2 separate regions of the Homo sapiens genome follow, and region 1 is linked to region 2. The links come from fine-mapping of genetic effects on gene expression. A gene starts in region 2. The other region holds a variant in brackets. All regions are shown on one strand. Distances are between the middles of the regions.

Region 1 (8,336 bases), 43 kb before region 2:
GGAAAGAGACCATTTGAAAATTTTGTATAACTAGAATATAAGGGATGTTATGTAAAAATGACAGGAACTGGCAACAAATTTGGTTGAGAACACAGAGTAAAGAGAAAAGGTATGCAAGAGCTGAAGCCATTTTCTGTTGTTACCAAACTGTAAAAGGATTATATAATTTAAAAAAATAATTTAAAAAACTCATTCTTAAACAAACATTACACAAAAATAGAAATTCTGTATTATAGTTCTCAGAATAGTTTATACCTAAAGTTAAAAACATTTGTATGAAAGATTTTTCTGATACTAAGTTTTGAGTTTTATTTATGGTGATCATTGGATATAATACTCTAATACACAAAAGGACTGGCAATTTGATTTTGGATTCCATTTAAGAAAATGTCTCCCTCTCCCCCTCCCCCTCCCCCCTCCCTCTCCCCACGGTCTCCCTCTCCCCACGGTCTCCCTCTCCCTCTCTTTCCACGGTCTCCCTCTGATGCCGAGCCGAAGCTGGACTGTACTGCTGCCATCTCGGCTCACTGCAACCTCCCTGCCTGATTCTCCTGCCTCAGCCTGCGGAGTGCCTGCGATTGCAGGCGCGCGCCGCCACGCCTGACTGGTTTTCTTATTTTTTTGGTGAAGACGGGGTTTCACTGTGTTGGCTGGGCTGGTCTCCAGCTCCTAGCCGCGAGTGATCCGCCAGCCTCGGCCTCCGGAGGTGCCGGGATTGCAGACGATGTCTGGTTCACTCAGTGCTCAGTGGTGCCCAGGCTGGAGTGCAGTGGTGTGATCTCAGCTCGCTACAACCTCCACCTCCCAGCCACCTGCCTTGGCCTCCCAAAGTGCTGAGATTGCAGCCTATGCCCGGCCGCCACCCCGTCTGGGAAGTGAGGAGCGTCTCTGCCTGGCCGCCTATCGTCTGGGACGTGAGGAGCCCCTCTGCCTGGCTGCCCAGTCTGGAAAGTGAGAAGCGTCTGCCCGGCCGCCATCCCATCTAGGAAGTGAGGAGCGTCTCTGCCCGGCCACCCATTGTCTGAGATGTGGGGAGCGCCTTTGCCCCACCGCCCCGTCTGGGATGTGAGGAGCGCCTCTGCCTGGCCGCGACCCCGTCTGGGAGGTGAGGAGCGTCTCTGCCCAGCCGCCCCGTCTGAGAAGGGAGGAGACCCTCCGCCCGGCAACCGCCCCGTCTGAGAAGTGAGGAGCCCCTCCGCCCGGCAGCCGGCCCATCTGAGAAGTGAGGAGCGTCTCCGCCCGGCAGCCACCCCGTCCGGGAGGGAGGTGGGGGGATCAGCCCCCCGCCCGGCCAGCCGCCCCGTCCGGGAGGGAGGTGGGGGGGTCAGCCCCCCGCCCGGCCAGCCGCCCCGTCCGGGAGGTGAGGGGCGCCTCTGCCCAGCCACCCCTACTGGGAAGTGAGGAGACCCTCTGCCCAGCCAGCCGCTCCGTCCGGGAGGGAGGTTGGGGGGTCAGCACCCCGCCCGGCCAGCCACCCCGTCCAGGAGGGAGGTGGGGGGGTCAGCCCCCCGCCCGGCCAGCCGCCCTGTCGGGGATGTGAGGGGCGCCTCTGCCCGGCCGCCTATCGTCTGGGACGTGAGGAGCCCCTCTGCCTGGCTGCCCAGTCTGGAAAGTGAGAAGCGTCTGCCCGGCCGCCATCCCATCTAGGAAGTGAGGAGCGTCTCTGCCCGGCCACCCATTGTCTGAGATGTGGGGAGCGCCTTTGCCCCACCGCCCCGTCTGGGATGTGAGGAGCGCCTCTGCCTGGCCGCGACCCCGTCTGGGAGGTGAGGAGCGTCTCTGCCCAGCCGCCCCGTCTGAGAAGGGAGGAGACCCTCCGCCCGGCAACCGCCCCGTCTGAGAAGTGAGGAGCCCCTCCGCCCGGCAGCCGGCCCATCTGAGAAGTGAGGAGCGTCTCCGCCCGGCAGCCACCCCGTCCGGGAGGGAGGTGGGGGGGTCAGCCCCCCGCCCAGCCAGCCGCCCCGTCCGGGAGGGAGGTGGGGGGGTCAGCCCCCCGCCCGGCCAGCCGCCCCGTCCGGGAGGTGAGGGGCGCCTCTGCCCAGCCACCCCTACTGGGAAGTGAGAAGCCCCTCTGCCCAGCCAGCCGCTCCGTCCGGGAGGGAGGTTGGGGGGTCAGCACCCCGCCCGGCCAGCCACCCCGTCCAGGAGGGAGGTGGGGGTGTCAGCCCCCCGCCCGGCCAGCCGCCCTGTCGGGGATGTGAGGGGCGCCTCTGCCCGGCCGCCCCTACTGGGAAGTGAGGAGCCCCTCTGCCCGGCCACCACCCCGTCTGGGAGGTGTACCCAACAGCTCATTGAGAACGGGCCATGATGACAATTGCGGTTTTGTGGAATAGAAAGGGGGCAAAGGTGGGGAAAAGATTGAGAAATCGGATGGTTGCCGTGTCTGTGTGGAAAGAAGTAGACATGGGAGACTTTTCATTTTGTTCTGTACTAAGAAAAATTCTTCTGCCTTGGGATCCTGTTGATCTGTGACCTTACCCCCAACCCTGTGCTCTCTGAAACATGTGCTGTGTCCACTCAGGGTTAAATGGATTAAGGGCGGTGCAAGATGTGCTTTGTTAAACAGATGCTTGAAGGCAGCATGCTCGTTAAGAGTCATCACCACTCCCTAATCTCAAGTACCCAGGGACACAAACGCTGCGGAAGGCCGCAGGGTCCTCTGCCTAGGAAAACCAGAGACCTCTGTTCACTTGTTTATCTGCTGACCTTCCCTCCACTATTGTCCTATGACCCTGCCAAATCCCCCTCTGTGAGAAACACCCAAGAATGATCAATAAAAAATAAATAAATAAATAAATAAATAAAAAGAAAATGTGTTTCTATGTATACACCAAAATTTCATTATAATATAATCCTTAACAATATTCCCTCCTATATGTGTGTGTGTGTGTGTGTGTGTGTGTGTGTGTGTGTGTGTGTGTGTGTGTATGTGTTTTTTTTTTTTTTTTTTGTGGGGGGGTTAAGTTCCACTCTTGTCGCCCAGGTTACAGTGCAATGGCGCGATCTCGGCTCACTGCAACCTCCGCCTCCTGGGTTCAAGTGATTCTTCTGCCTCAGCCTCCCAAGTAGCTGGGATTACAGGCACGTGCCTGCCACCACGCCTGGTTAACTTTTGTATTTTTAGTAGAGATGGGGTTTTGCCATGTTGGCCAGGCTGGTCTCAAAATCCTGACCTCAGGTGATCTGCCCACTTCGGCCTCCCAAAGTGCTGGGATTACGGGTGTGAGCCACCATGCCTGGCCCCTACAACATTTTTAAAGCGGTGAAAAATTAAGTTCACGAACAGAAAGAAGACTATACATATTTGGTGTCATAATTATATATGCCTAAAGTAATGTTATTAATGTTATATATAAACATATGGTAATTAAATATAAAGTGTTAGTAGTAAGCAATGCCTTCACAATAGTTTCCCTTTTAGTCCTCTGGTATCTATAAACAACTTCATTATTCAGTCCTTCTCTTCTCCTTCTCTTTAACATGTACACATTGGCAGAGGAAGGTGATGCTCAATAAAAGACAAGTGCTCCTAGATTAGACTGGCTAAAAGTGAAGTAACAGAATATTAAAAAAACAGGTGATGGCCAGTTTACACG[AT/A]TTTTTTTTTTTTTTTTTTTTGAGGCGGAGTTTTGCTCGTCACCCAGGCTGGAGTGCAATAGTGTGATCTCAGCTCACTGCAACCTCTGCTTCCCGGGTTCAAGCAATTCTCCTGCCTCAGCCTCTGGAGTACAGGTGCACATTATAGGCGCGCGCCTGCCAACACACCTGGCTAATTTTTGTATTTTTAGTAGAGATGGGGTTTCATCATGTTGGCCAAGCTGTTCTCAAACTCCTGACCTCAAGTGATCCGCCTGCCTTGGCCTCCCAAAGTGCTGGGATTATAGGCATAAGCCACTGTGCCTGGCCAACATCATCTTATAGATAAGAGGAAAACCAATAATTACTTCTTTCAAGAAGGGCATGAGCAGACCTATATTTCAGGAAGACAATCTGGTTGTCTGGAGGGGCCCAAAGATCCCTATGCCTTCCTCCACATTCTCTCTGAAACCTACTCTCATTATTCTTTTCCTCAGAGTTCCTATACAGAATATCGTGTCTCCTTGCTTTCCATCCTCAAAAAATAAAACTTGGCCGGGCATGGTGGCTCACACCTGTAATCCCAGCACCTTGGGAGGCTGAGGCGAGTGGATTACCTGAGGTCAGGAGTTCAAGACCAGCCTGGCCAACATGGTGAAACCCCGTCTCTATTAAAAATACAAAAATTAGCCAGAAGTGGTGGGACATGCCTGTAATCCCAGCTACTTGGGAGGCTGAAGCAGGAGAATTGCTTGAGCCTGGGAGACAGAGGTTGCAGTGAGCCGAGATTGTGCCACTGTACTCCAGCCTGGCCGACAGAGCAAGACTCTGTCTCCAAAAACAAACAAACAAACAAACAAACAAACAAACAAACAAAAAAAAAACAACAAACTGAGATAATCCACAAGGTTGCTCTAGAAAGCAAAAAATAAAGTTTTAACTATGAACCTCTCAAAAAAGAGTCAGGAGAAATAAAATCTTAACCAAGTGAGGTAAAGCAAGTGACAAGTAGGGATATACACTGAATTCTTAGTATTGGGGCAGCTAAAGGCTGCCTTTTCAGGGACAGGATCTCACTATGTTGCCTAGACTGCCTTAAATCCTAAATGCAAGTGATCCTCCCAGCTCTGCCTCCAGAGTAGCTGGGACTACAGGTGTGCACCACCATGCGTAACTCTCCCTATTCTTTTTAAATCCCTTCTTACCCATCTTAGAATCCACTATCTACCATTAATCCCTCCCTTGTAAATAATTTTTAACTCCCTTGATCCACTCCCTCTGTATCTCATTTGGTAAAAGCTCAATCCAATTCTTTACTTATTTTGTGCCTGCTACCAAGCAGCTAAATGTTGGAGAAAAATTGTGCAATCACGCTGTCTATAATCCCTTCAAAATTATAAATAATTCATTAATACGCTTCTTTACTAAGTTCATTTTCCCATCTCCAATAGCCTTTTCCCTTCCACTTTCAACCACCCCTCCTACAGCTAGATGATATTGTTTCCCACTTAACCACGAAAATAGATGAAAGCAGAGGAGAATAATTTATCTTTCCGCTACCAATTCCAGTAACCTTCCTGCACCTGTAGCCACATTCCTCTTAAAGATAAGGGACAATGAGTTCCTGTTCCTGACTAAAGCCAGTCTCACCACCTGTGGCCTAGGTCTCAAGCCCATTTGCCTTCCTCTAAGACTTCACTGAGGTAATTATCTTTTTTTCTCGTGGGCACCTTCTTTGACTACCTGCTCAAATGTTGTATCTTCTTTTTTTTTTTTGAGACGGAGTCTCGCTCTGTTGCCCAGGCTGGAGTGCAGTGGCGCAATCTCAGCTCACTGCAAGCTCCACCTCCCAGGTTCACGCCATTCTCCAGCCTCAGCCTCCCGAGGAGCTGGTACTACAGTTGCCCACCACCAGGCCCGGCTAATTTTTTCTGTTTTTAGTAGAGACGGGGTTTCACCGTGTTAGTGGGGGGGGGGGTTTCATCGTGTTAGCCAGGATAGTCCCGATCTCCTGACCTTGTGATCCGCCTGCCTCGGCCTCCCAAAGTGCTGGGATTACAGGCGTGAGCCACTGCGCCTGGCCAAATGTTGTATCTTCTAAGAGTCTTTCCTACACTATTCTATCTAAGAGATCTCCCCTTTCTCAATCACTCTTTTTCTCCTTTGTGTTTTTTTTTCATACTGCCTGTCATTACAAGATATTATGCTATATTTATTTATTTCATGTCTGTCTTCTTACTACAATGTAAGCCCCCGGAGGACAAGACTTTTGCCTTTCTTGCATCTCTCTATCTTTAGCACACAATACACTGTCTCATAACATCCCAAGTGCCCAATTATTATTATTATTTTAAAGGCAGAGTCTCCATCACCCAGGCAGGAGTGAGTCACCATGCCCAGCCAATTTTTTTTTTTTGTAGTAGAGACAAGGTCTTGCTATGTTGCCCAGGCTGGTCACAAACTCCTGAGCTCAAGTGATCTTCTTGCCTCAGCCTTTCAAAGTATTGGAATTACAGGCGTGAGCCACCTCACCCGGCCCCCAATTATTATTTGTTGCATTAATATAGAATAAGCTTCAAACATCATTATGGCCAAGAGAACCACTGATTTTCTGCCCTGATGCATTTCCCATTTCAGCAAGAGACCACTAAGTTATGCAGGCTCCATACCTTGGAGTCATCCTTGATTCCTCTCTTTTCTTTATAGCCCACATTCAATTGGTCCATGTTGTCAGCTCTACTTCCAAAATATATCCTAAGTATGACTACTTTTCATCATTTCCATTGCTATAGTCCTACCCGAGCTACCAAACTCCCACCTGTGGACCAATATAGAAGTTTAACTTGTCTCCATCCATGCAGACACCAGAGTGATATGTCTAAGACAAAATGAAAATTTCATCATTCCATTTAAATAAAACTCTAAAATGACTTCTTATTGCAAACAGAATAAAATCCAAATTCTTTGCTATGGCCAAAATTGCTTATTTACATGTTTACTGTTCCTCTTTTTCCATTAGAAACATCTTGAATAGTAACCAGTATATAATAATCTTTTATAACTTTTTTTTTTGAGACAAAGTCTCACTCTATCACCCAGGTTGGAGTGCAGTGGTGCTCACTGCAACCTCTACCTCCCAGGTTCACGCGATTCTCGTGCCTCAGCCTCCCCAGTAGCTGGGATTACAGGCGTGCACCACCATGCCCGGCTAATTTTTGTATTGTTAGTAGAGACAGAGTTTCCCCCATGCTGGCCAGGCTGGTCTCAAACTCCTGACCTCAAGTGATACACCAGCCTTGGCCTCCCAAAGTGCTGGGATTACAGGCATGAGCCACTGCTCCTGGCCACTATTTGTTGAGTTGGTTGATCCCTCGCTTTTGACACTCCCCAGAATGTAGCAATTCTTTGGAACATAACCCCAACATCCTAGTTCTAAAACATATCCACATATTTACATAATATTTATTCTACATATTTATTTTATGTTTACATATAATAAATATGTATTCTAAGAAGGGATTATTGAGCATCCACATTTTGTTTGGTTAGAGGGGTGTATAATAGAGAAAGAAAATATAGGTAAAATTAATTTATTTAAGTTGAACAAACATTTGCTGAATTTCTGGTGTTATGTGAACTAAGACAAACAGCCTATCCTCAAAAAGCTCAGAGTGAGGTAGCAATATGTATTTTTTAAACTGAAAGGACAGTCACATCACCTACTTTTCTAATCCTTTGTATTATCCCTGTTTGTTTAAACAGCAATAGAGTGTGAAGCTGGTTGGAAATAAGAAGTAAGAACTGTATATTATTTGCTCCTCCACATAAACATACTGAGTTTATGTTATCAGGTGTTTTCTAGATGCAGGAAATATAAAGATGAAGAACCCTTGCCAGGTGCCATGGCTCATGCCTGTAATCCTAGCACTTTGGGAGGCTGAGGTGGGCAGATTGAGCTCAGGAGTTCGAGACCAGCCTGGGCAACATGGTGAATCCCCATCTCTACAAAAAATATAAAAAAAATTTAGCCAGGCATGGTGGCGTGTGTCTGTGGTCCCAGCTACTCGAGAGGCTGAGGTGGGAGAATCCCCTGAGCCTGGGAGGCAGAAGTTGCAAGTGAGCCAAGATCATACCACTGCACTATAGAGTGAGGCCCTGTCTCCAGAAAAAAAAAAGATTAATAACCCATGAGATAAATGAAGTCCAGTGAAAACACACATGTAAATAAACAATTATAATACTGTAGTTTTATAACTATACCATAATTTTTATTTATTTATTTATATTTATTTTTTTGAGACGGAATCTTGCTCTGTCGTCCACACAGGAGTATAGTGGCGCCATCTCGGCTCACTGCAACCTCTGCCTCCCAAGTTCAAGCCATTCTCCCGCCTCAGCCTCCCGAGCAGCTGGGATTACAGGTGCTTGCCACCACACCCAGCTAACTATACCATAATTTTTAAACTACTATGTATGGAGTGCTATGGCAGCATGGTGAAGGATGCAATTAACACTGCCTAGGGAAGTCTGTGGAGGGAAGATAATATCTGAGTATGATTAGAAATAGTTATCCAGATAAAGAGGAGAGAGAAAATAATACAATATGGAATAAACAATATAGACAAGTGAAAAGAAGAGTAAAAGAAATTTATATAGTAATCAACAGTGATTAATTGAATATACCTTAAAAACAAAGTATACAAATGGCAGAGTAGAGCTAGAGGATAAAATCAGGATGAGATTCTGTGATGTACTGAGGA
Region 2 (8,336 bases):
TCCCCTCTTCTGTTCTCAGGAAGAATTAAATACAAAATCATGGAATTTTAGACCTGGAAATGATCTTTCAAATGACCAAGATCAAAGTTATTTTACATATAAAGTTAAAAAGTTCAAGGAGAAATTCAGCACAATGTCGCTAACTAGTAACATTGGGTTATGAAGTCGGTTTTTTCATCAAACGAGACCTGCATTCTTGAAAGTCTCAAGGAAAGTTAAAATTCAGTGGAGAATGTCTTTCCCACAAAATTGTCAAAAAAAGGTTAACACTTATAACAACGAACATGTGATTCATTCATCACACAATTTTTATAAATGGTACAAAGTATATTACATTTTAAAATACAGAAGGGCTTCAATAGAAATTAAATACAGTAGAAATTCTACATAAAGCTAAGTTAACTAGAGGAGGACTAGAACAGCTTCAAAGAAAGATGCATCTAGTCAGTCTTCTTTACGAAAAGCAGTTCCTGTGTTTTAGAGAATATTATTTGCCCTGCAGTATATTTTAATCTTTGTTAAAATAATTTATAAAAGTTTTGTGTTATATGTAGACGGAGATGTTAGAGAACTATGGCTCAGAACACCATCTCAAATATGACTCTCGCTAAAATAATCATACAGTCATAGTTTTCCTTTTGGCATATTTTTGGAAATATAAAACTCTAGGGATGGTTAAGATTTTTATCAACACATAGTGAATGGAAATTACATTAATGTAAATGAAAAAATACAACACTAATAGCTACACCTTTTTAAATTGCTCATCTAGTAACAGCTAGAATATATATTGCCAATTCAAAATTTAAAATGACATGGATGAACCTCAAAGTCATTATGCTGGGTGAAAAAGCATTTCAAGAGGGAACGTACTATAAGATTCTGTTTATATGACAGTCCAGAAAAGGCAAAATAATAGTGACGGAGAACTGTTGCCAGGATTAGAGCTAGAAGGAGCTGACTACAAAGGGACAGCATAAGAGAGCTATTGGGAGTGAAGGAACTGTTCTGTACCGACTGCAGTAGTGGTGCACAAATCTTTCTGTTAAAATTCACAGAACTATACACCAAGAAGAAATTTCAATTTTACTTCATGTTAAATAAAAAATAAAATAGAGAGGAACTTTTAAAACAGTAGAACAGATATCCCTGGTAAAGGTAGAATTTCTCATTTTTCACAGCTTCATGCCAATGGTATAATTTTACTGGCCACAAAATTATTAAATCCGATTGTATTAAATAAAATCAAGAAACTCGGGCCCAATGAACCATTTCTTAAGTATGTATACTAATAAGGCATGGAAATAAAAGTATTTTAAGGATTATTAACCCTGTATAAAAAAATTCTGCTATTCCCAAGTGAATCTGAATTGTTACTTTATACATTTTAAAATGAAAAGTATCTTGGTGTTTAGTTTGGAATCCAAGAACAGCTGGTAAAAAGTTAAAAAAAAATTTTTTTAGTGCCATCTGTTCTAAAGTGACTAGAAACAGGTAATAGTGTTTTTACCTTTATTTTCTCTTCTTGTTATCCTAATTCATTAAAGTTTTTATATGATTGGATTTTATACTTAAATCAATTACCTAGAGACTCCAAATCGGAATCTGCAAATACTGCTGGATCCTTTGTCACTAGAATCAAGAATATATAAGAGAGGAACACTATTTCTCTAGGGATACTACTGAGACTTATATGTAAGGTATGAGATGAGACAGAATCCCATCAGCTTTACTGTGCCTCCCATAACTTTGGAACTGTTAGAAGTTCAGAAAGAATGATTATGTGTAAGCCGACAAAATATAAGAAACAAAGATTGGGGGGATGAAATATTACAAATGCTGCATCTCTACAGAAAGACTTGCGTAATAGAATAATACAAACTTTATATAACAAGTCTGTGATTATAATTATAGTAGACTTTGCCTTTTGAGATCAGGCCTAGATAGTTTTTCACCACTGCTTCTGCCATGGACAGAGGTTAAGTGCTTTTTGAGAGCAGACTTGTGCTTGAAATCCATATCACAACAGTGGCATTTGTATGGCCGATCCCCACTGTGTATGTTCAAGTGGTCCTGAAGTGTGCTTTTGGCAGTAAATGTCTTCAAGCACACAGTACACTGAAAGGGCCGTATGCCCATGTGTCCTCGGATGTGTCGGTTGAGATTTTTCTTCTGTGTAAATGTTTTTCCGCACTGTAAGCATAAGAATAGTTTATGCATTTTAAGGTGGCGCAGATAGTTTTCAACATGAAGAAAGCCTCGAGGACACCTGGGGCACTGGTGCCTCAGTGAATAACCTTCCTCCAGATTCTGAATCTCACTCACTGTACCATAACTTCCTTCAGTATTCTCACAAAATAAGCCCTGATCTTGATTCCCAGGAACTTCAGCCACTCTGCTCTCAACTGTAGAATTGATCAATGAATGCTGTGTTTCAGAGAAATACATGCTTGCTTTTGAAGAGGTACAAGGCTGTGAAAACTGCCCATTTTCGACACCAGCTGTACTGATGGATTCTACATGAAGGATACAAATTTCATTGTCTTTAAAACCTATGTCTACTGTAGACAGCTCTGGTGACTTCATTTCCTTTCTCTCTGATGTCAGACTCTCTACTGTAGACTGCAAAGCATTGCTTTCCTCTTCTTTAACATGGAAATCTATGTTTACAGGACTATCTTCTGAAATTTCAATTATCTCACAGTCTTTATCAGAATTTTCATCTTCATTCTTAACATCAGGATCAGAAGACTGACACAGGTCAGTGTGTTGGTTGTTGTTTTTCATAGAAAGATCAATTTCCAGATACTTTGACAAAGCTTCTGTGCACTTTTCCACAATGTGAACCATCTGAAGGTAACTGGCAGCAGTCAAGTATTTCAAAAGCTCTTTCCTTTTAACTTCAAGTGCTCCAGTATAGCAAGACAGTAACAATTTTCTGCCAACTTCTGCACTCTGTAAGATGGTGATTCTGACATGTTTTGACTGTGTGAGTAAAAACTGATCTCTCATAAAAGTGGAGCAAGCAGCCAAAATCACCTTGTGCCCCTGGAACTCAGTGTCATTAATGTAAATTGATACATCACAAAATAAATTCTGCTGTCTCAAAAGATTCATTTTCTGCAAGACCACATCTCCTTGCTGTTCAAACTGGAAATGCAGAACATCAGACTCAGCAGCCATGATCACAATCTAAGCAAAATAAAACACAAACATTGATGTAATAAGGATAGGGAATGCTTTCCCATGCTGTAATGGTGAAAACAAACGAAAAACCCCAAACCTGAATTAGGAAGAAGAAGACTCAAAGTCTAATGTAGGTGTTATGAACCTTTATGCCACCATCTCAAAACGAGAACTTTATAATGCACTTCTCTATGATCTCATAGCACATTTTTCATAACTTTGTTACAACATTCATTACAATGAATTGTAGTGAACAGTTTCTAGCTTGTTTCTTTTGCTAAATGTTGTGTGCCTTGTGGTCAAGAACAATCTATCAATTTTGAATATCCAATATAAGCACTGTGACCACCAAAAAGTTGATTTAACATAATATATCCAATTAGCAACTTTAACGTAATCTCCAAACTTCCTACTCCCCACCACTACAACAGGTCCTCCTTCCGGTTCACCTGGACAACTGCAATGTCTTCCAACAGGTCTTCTTTATACCACACTCTTCTGTATGCCAGATTACCCGCCTGAGTGCCACCAGGATTAACAACCCTTATTTTATTTTATTTTTAATTTCCCTTTTCTGCTTTAAATCTTCTATCGTTCTTCTCTACCTCCGGGACAGTCCAGATTTCTTAGGAAAGAATACGAGACCCATCACGATTTGGCTCTAACCCATCTTTATGGCTTTATCACCTTCTATTCTCTTTTTCATACTCGAACCTCGTTCAATACTAAATTTTTCCATCATTACCCAGACAAAAAGACACGAATACACATTTCTTACATTCGCGTTTCCAGTTCCTTTTTTCAGCTAGTGATTAGGCTCCTTTAAGCCCAAATCAAGTAAAACTAATATGACTCCACCTCCCGTTTCAACCAGAGAGAGTCAGCTGCTCTCTGAGCACCGCGAGATGGTGCCTGATGCATCTGTGTTCCTGCACCGAGCTCAGGGGCCCACACAGAGCAGGAGGAGCTCAGGGAACATCTGCTGAACTGAAACCGGATGCCAGGTTCAGCACACAGGTATTCTGGAGGCAACCCTGCGAAGGGCCAAGGCCCTGTCGGCCCAGTGGTTGCAGCACAAGATTAGCCACTCCGGGGCCGAGCCCAGCTGTCCTCCTCCTCCTCCTCCTCTTCCTCAGGCACCCTCCACCTGAGGAATCTACTTTGCACTCACTCACCGACTCAGAAAACTAGAGTCAAGGATTCCGCGGCAGCGTCTGCCCAAGCCGGAAGATGGACTTAGCCTGGAAGAAAACACATCCGGTGCCAACCAGCTTTATTCTTTACTGGGGCCCTCTAGGCGCCCCGGAAGGACATTCTGAGACGGTCTTCCTTCCTCACTTCCCCCCTCTTGGAATGACAGAAAGGCTCCTGAATGCCGGCAAGCCCCATCTCTCTTGTCCCAGTTTCGGCACTCGAGCCGTTTTCCCCCACCATCCCTTTTTTTTTTTAAGACGGAGTTTCGCTCTTGTTGCCCAGGCTGGAGTGCAATGGCGCGATTTCGGCTCACTGCAACCTTCGCCTCCCGGGTTCAAGCGACTCTCGCTCCGCAGCCTCCCAAGTAGCTGAGATTACAGGCGCCCGCCACCACGCCCGGCTCATTTTTGTATTTTTAGTAGAGACGGGGTTTCACCATGTTGGCTAGGCTGGTATCGAACTCCTGACCTCAGGAGATCCGCCCGCCTCGGCCTCCCTAAATGCTGGGATTACCGGGTTGAGCCACCGCGCCCAGCCGAGCCATTTCCTTTTGTGAGTCCTCCTGAACATCCGAATTGGAGACGGGGTTTGAGGTTCGGTTACGGCACGTCTGTCAGAGTAACCAGACCTTTTATGGATTATTCTGGGACGATTCCTCTCCTTATTGGGGCCACCTACAACTTGAAAGGTGGCAGAGCAGAAACTATCATAAAGATCCGTATTCGAGATTGCCTAGATAATGCCCCATCAGGAGATGGCCCCAACCTCTGGATCTAGCTTCACACTTAAATGCGTTCCTCCATCCCAAAACTTTTGGCCCAGCTGTTTCCTCTGACGTGCCCTAGCCTTTTCCCCAGGCTTTTTTTTTTTTTTTTTGAGACGGAGTCTCTCTCTGTCGCCCAGGCTGGAGTGCAGCGGCAGGATCTCGGCTCACTGCAAGCTCCGCCTCCTGGGTTCACGCCATTCTCCTGCCTCAGCCTCCCGAGTAAGCTGGGACTTCAGGTGCCCGCCACTTCGCCTGGCTAATTTTTTTTTTTTTGTATTTTTAGTAGAGACGGGGTTTCACCGTGTTAGCCAGGATGGTCTCGATCTCCTGACCTCGTGATCCGCCCGCCTTGGCCTCCCAAAGTGCTGGGATTACAGGCGTGAGCCACCGAGCCCGGCCTTCCCCAACGTATCTTTAAAGAACCCGTTTATAAATCTCATCATCCTGAAGCCATCCTGAACTGCCCTAAGATAATTGGTTCCCAGTTTGAAACCTGTAATCCCTTTTCCTGCCTTCATTATTGCACTTAACACGCCTGTATTAATTTGTGCCTCATCTAGGCAGAGTTATTTAGGACAGTGGCTTACTGATCTTTGTATTCTCGAAGTCTAGCACTTGGTAGGCATCAAGTATTTGTGCTGAATGAAGATATGACTGAAGAAATTCTTTTTCTTTTTTTTTTGAGACAGAGTCTCACTCTGTGGTCCAGGCTGGAGTGCAGTGGCACGATCTCGGCCTACCGCAACCTCCGCCTAGCAGGTTCAAGCAATTCTCCTGCCTCAGCCTCCCGAGTAGCTGGGATTACAGGTGCCTGCCACCACACCCAGCTACTTTTTGTATTTTTGGTAGAGACGGGGTTTCACCATGTTGGCCAGGCCGGTCTCGAACTCCTGACCTCAGGTGATCCACCCGCCTTGGCCTCCCAAAGTGCTGGGATTACAGGCATGAGCCGCCGCGCCCGGCCTCTGCACCAATTCTATTCCTTTTTTTTTTTTTTTTTTTTTTTTTTTGAGACAAAGTCTCGCTCTGTCGCCCAGACTGGAGTGCAGTGGTGCGATCTTGGCTCACTGCAAGCTCCGCCTCTCGGGTTCACGCCATTCTCCTGCCTCAGCCTCCCGAGTAGCTGGGACTAATGCCCTGCCACCAGGCCCGGCTAATTTTTTGTATTTTTAGTAGAGACGGGGTTTCACCGTGTTAGCCAGGATGGTCTCGATCTCCTGACCTTGTGATCCACCCGCCTCGGCCTCCCAAAGTGCTGGGATTACAGGCGTGAGCCACCGCGCCCGGCCGCCTCTGAACCAATTCTTAAAGGCAGTTGCTCTGCTCCTCCAGCAACAGGTTCTCGTGGAAGTAAATGAATCTAGTAACAACTTTCTGATTAATTCGTATTTTTTTCTGAAGGCAAGCTCAGCATGCTTAATATGTATTTTTAAGACTATACATAAAGAAGACCTTCCTGTATTCAAAGTAAAGCAATTAAAAAAGAATAGAAGGAGGGGAGAGTGAGAAAATAACCAATGACACCAGAGCTTTAATCGTCACACTTTTATTAAGGAAACTTCCCCATAATAAGTGAAGAGGTAGTTCATAGTATGTCTAACATACAACAGATTTAGAACAGCTATTCATGAGCTGAAATAAAATCTTCTGGGTTGTTTAGGACAGTATTTTAGAAGCAGTGACATTGGTCACCTTCCATTTATAGATCTGCTAATAAAGAAACTTAAATTAAAATCATATCTGATTTACCTCAGAGCCACTTCAGTTTGGAGTTTAGTATTAAATAATAAATAAATAACTGACAGAGTAATTTTTTTTTAAACCAAACTATGGTAGAGAGTCATCTCCTTTTTAGTTCTCCTGGGGATCCATAAAATACAAATGCTGAATGATAAAGGTTTTAAAAATCTTCCTCCTCTACAGAAATATGACTAGTTTTGAAAGTCATCTTCCTCTGTAAAATACTGGATATCAGTAACTTGACTTCTTTGCAATATAATCTAACAAACACGTATAAGCAAAGAAGGAGGAAAGTGAAGTTCCACAAAAATTAGAAAAATGTCTCACAGAAACAGAACACCTCTCCAGCCAAAAATGGAGGAGACTGTAAATCACTTCAGTGGTTTGCATTTTCAAAAGGTGAGAACTAAATGTTTTACTGATACAAAAGCACAAAGTTGCTGATTTTAACTGATCGAATACAGCAAGGCAGCTTTCTTTATTATTTCTAGTATAAAAGCAAATTGAGACTTTGTTTCACTAAGACCACATGAGACTATAAGCTCCATGAGGGCAGGGACTATATCAATCTTACCTTCATTATCCTCAGTATCTAGCATAGTGTCTAGCAACAGTAGGTGCTTAACTAATGTTTCTTGAACAACTGAATGAACCCAGAAATAGTCTCCAACCAAAGAGACCAATCTTATTTGAACCCGTGCCTTTTAGTCTTCAAACCAGTAACAAAAACAAGACATGAATGTGAGCAAACGAAGCACTCCAACTTGAAATTTCCCTGTGAAGAAATGATGTTGACAGAAAATACCAAAAAATGCTGTTTGGTTGACAGGGTAGAGTCTCACTATTGCATAGAATTGGTACTCTTTGGCTGGATCATGTAAAAATCACAATGCTAGGAAGCATCATTAGACCATATAATGAGTGATGTTAGGCATAAGGTACCTATTAGTCTTACCACTCAACTGTATTATCATTTTAAATATTTGAACAAAAGACAAAAATCATACTTCACATCTGACTCACATGATGATAATTTACATATGATAACAATGATACATGTAAACGTATCAAATATAACAATTGAAGATCCCCTCTGACTATGCAAGCCTAATTTTTCAAATCTGCATGCACTCTCATAGCTCAAAAATAAAAACAGAAAATCCTGATGGAAACTAATAAACAGTTTTCCACACAAAATCAACTTCGCATTTAGATTCTTCTCACATTATTCTTGCTTTTTCCCTCCCTAAACAAACCTAGCAAATCACTCACTTGGATGGGAAGAATATAATATTCATCTAACTAAAAAATAATTAATATAAATCCCTCTGCGATATTTTGTTGGCAAAATTCAGGTTGTCTCAGAAAGCCAACAGGGAGACACAAAGGGGAAACACAAACTAGGAGCTTTTTGCTAATGCATTATTCTTCATGTACTAAATCTTTTAAA

Direction of the effects. Alleles are on the strand shown, and positions count from the first base shown. SD is a standard deviation of normalised expression in the study named.
As copies of AT replace A in region 1, the expression in activated CD8 T cells of the gene that starts at base 4,434 in region 2 goes down (moderate effect, 0.75 SD a copy in Schmiedel 2018).

Evidence for each region.
Region 1: its variant is fine-mapped to the expression of ZBTB6 in activated CD8 T cells (Schmiedel 2018, PIP 0.95).

Annotation. Positions count from the first base shown.
Region 1 is chr9:122,865,964-122,874,299 of GRCh38, forward strand. All of the region lies in intron 9 of RC3H2 (ring finger and CCCH-type domains 2), which reads right to left. Among named protein-coding and RNA genes, the nearest start is that of SNORD90, 10 kb to the right of the region's middle. The variant AT/A (reference allele first, on the strand shown) is at 3,597.
Region 2 is chr9:122,908,890-122,917,225 of GRCh38, forward strand. It overlaps ZBTB6 (zinc finger and BTB domain containing 6), which reads right to left and starts at 4,434. Exons shown (of 2, transcript NM_006626.6): 1 at 4,362-4,434; 2 at 1-3,192. The coding sequence starts at 3,183. The coding sequence ends at 1,909. ZBTB26 (zinc finger and BTB domain containing 26) reads right to left here. Exons shown (of 2, transcript NM_020924.4): 2 at 6,677-8,336. RefSeq lists enhancers at 4,149-4,258, 4,269-4,498, 5,967-6,724.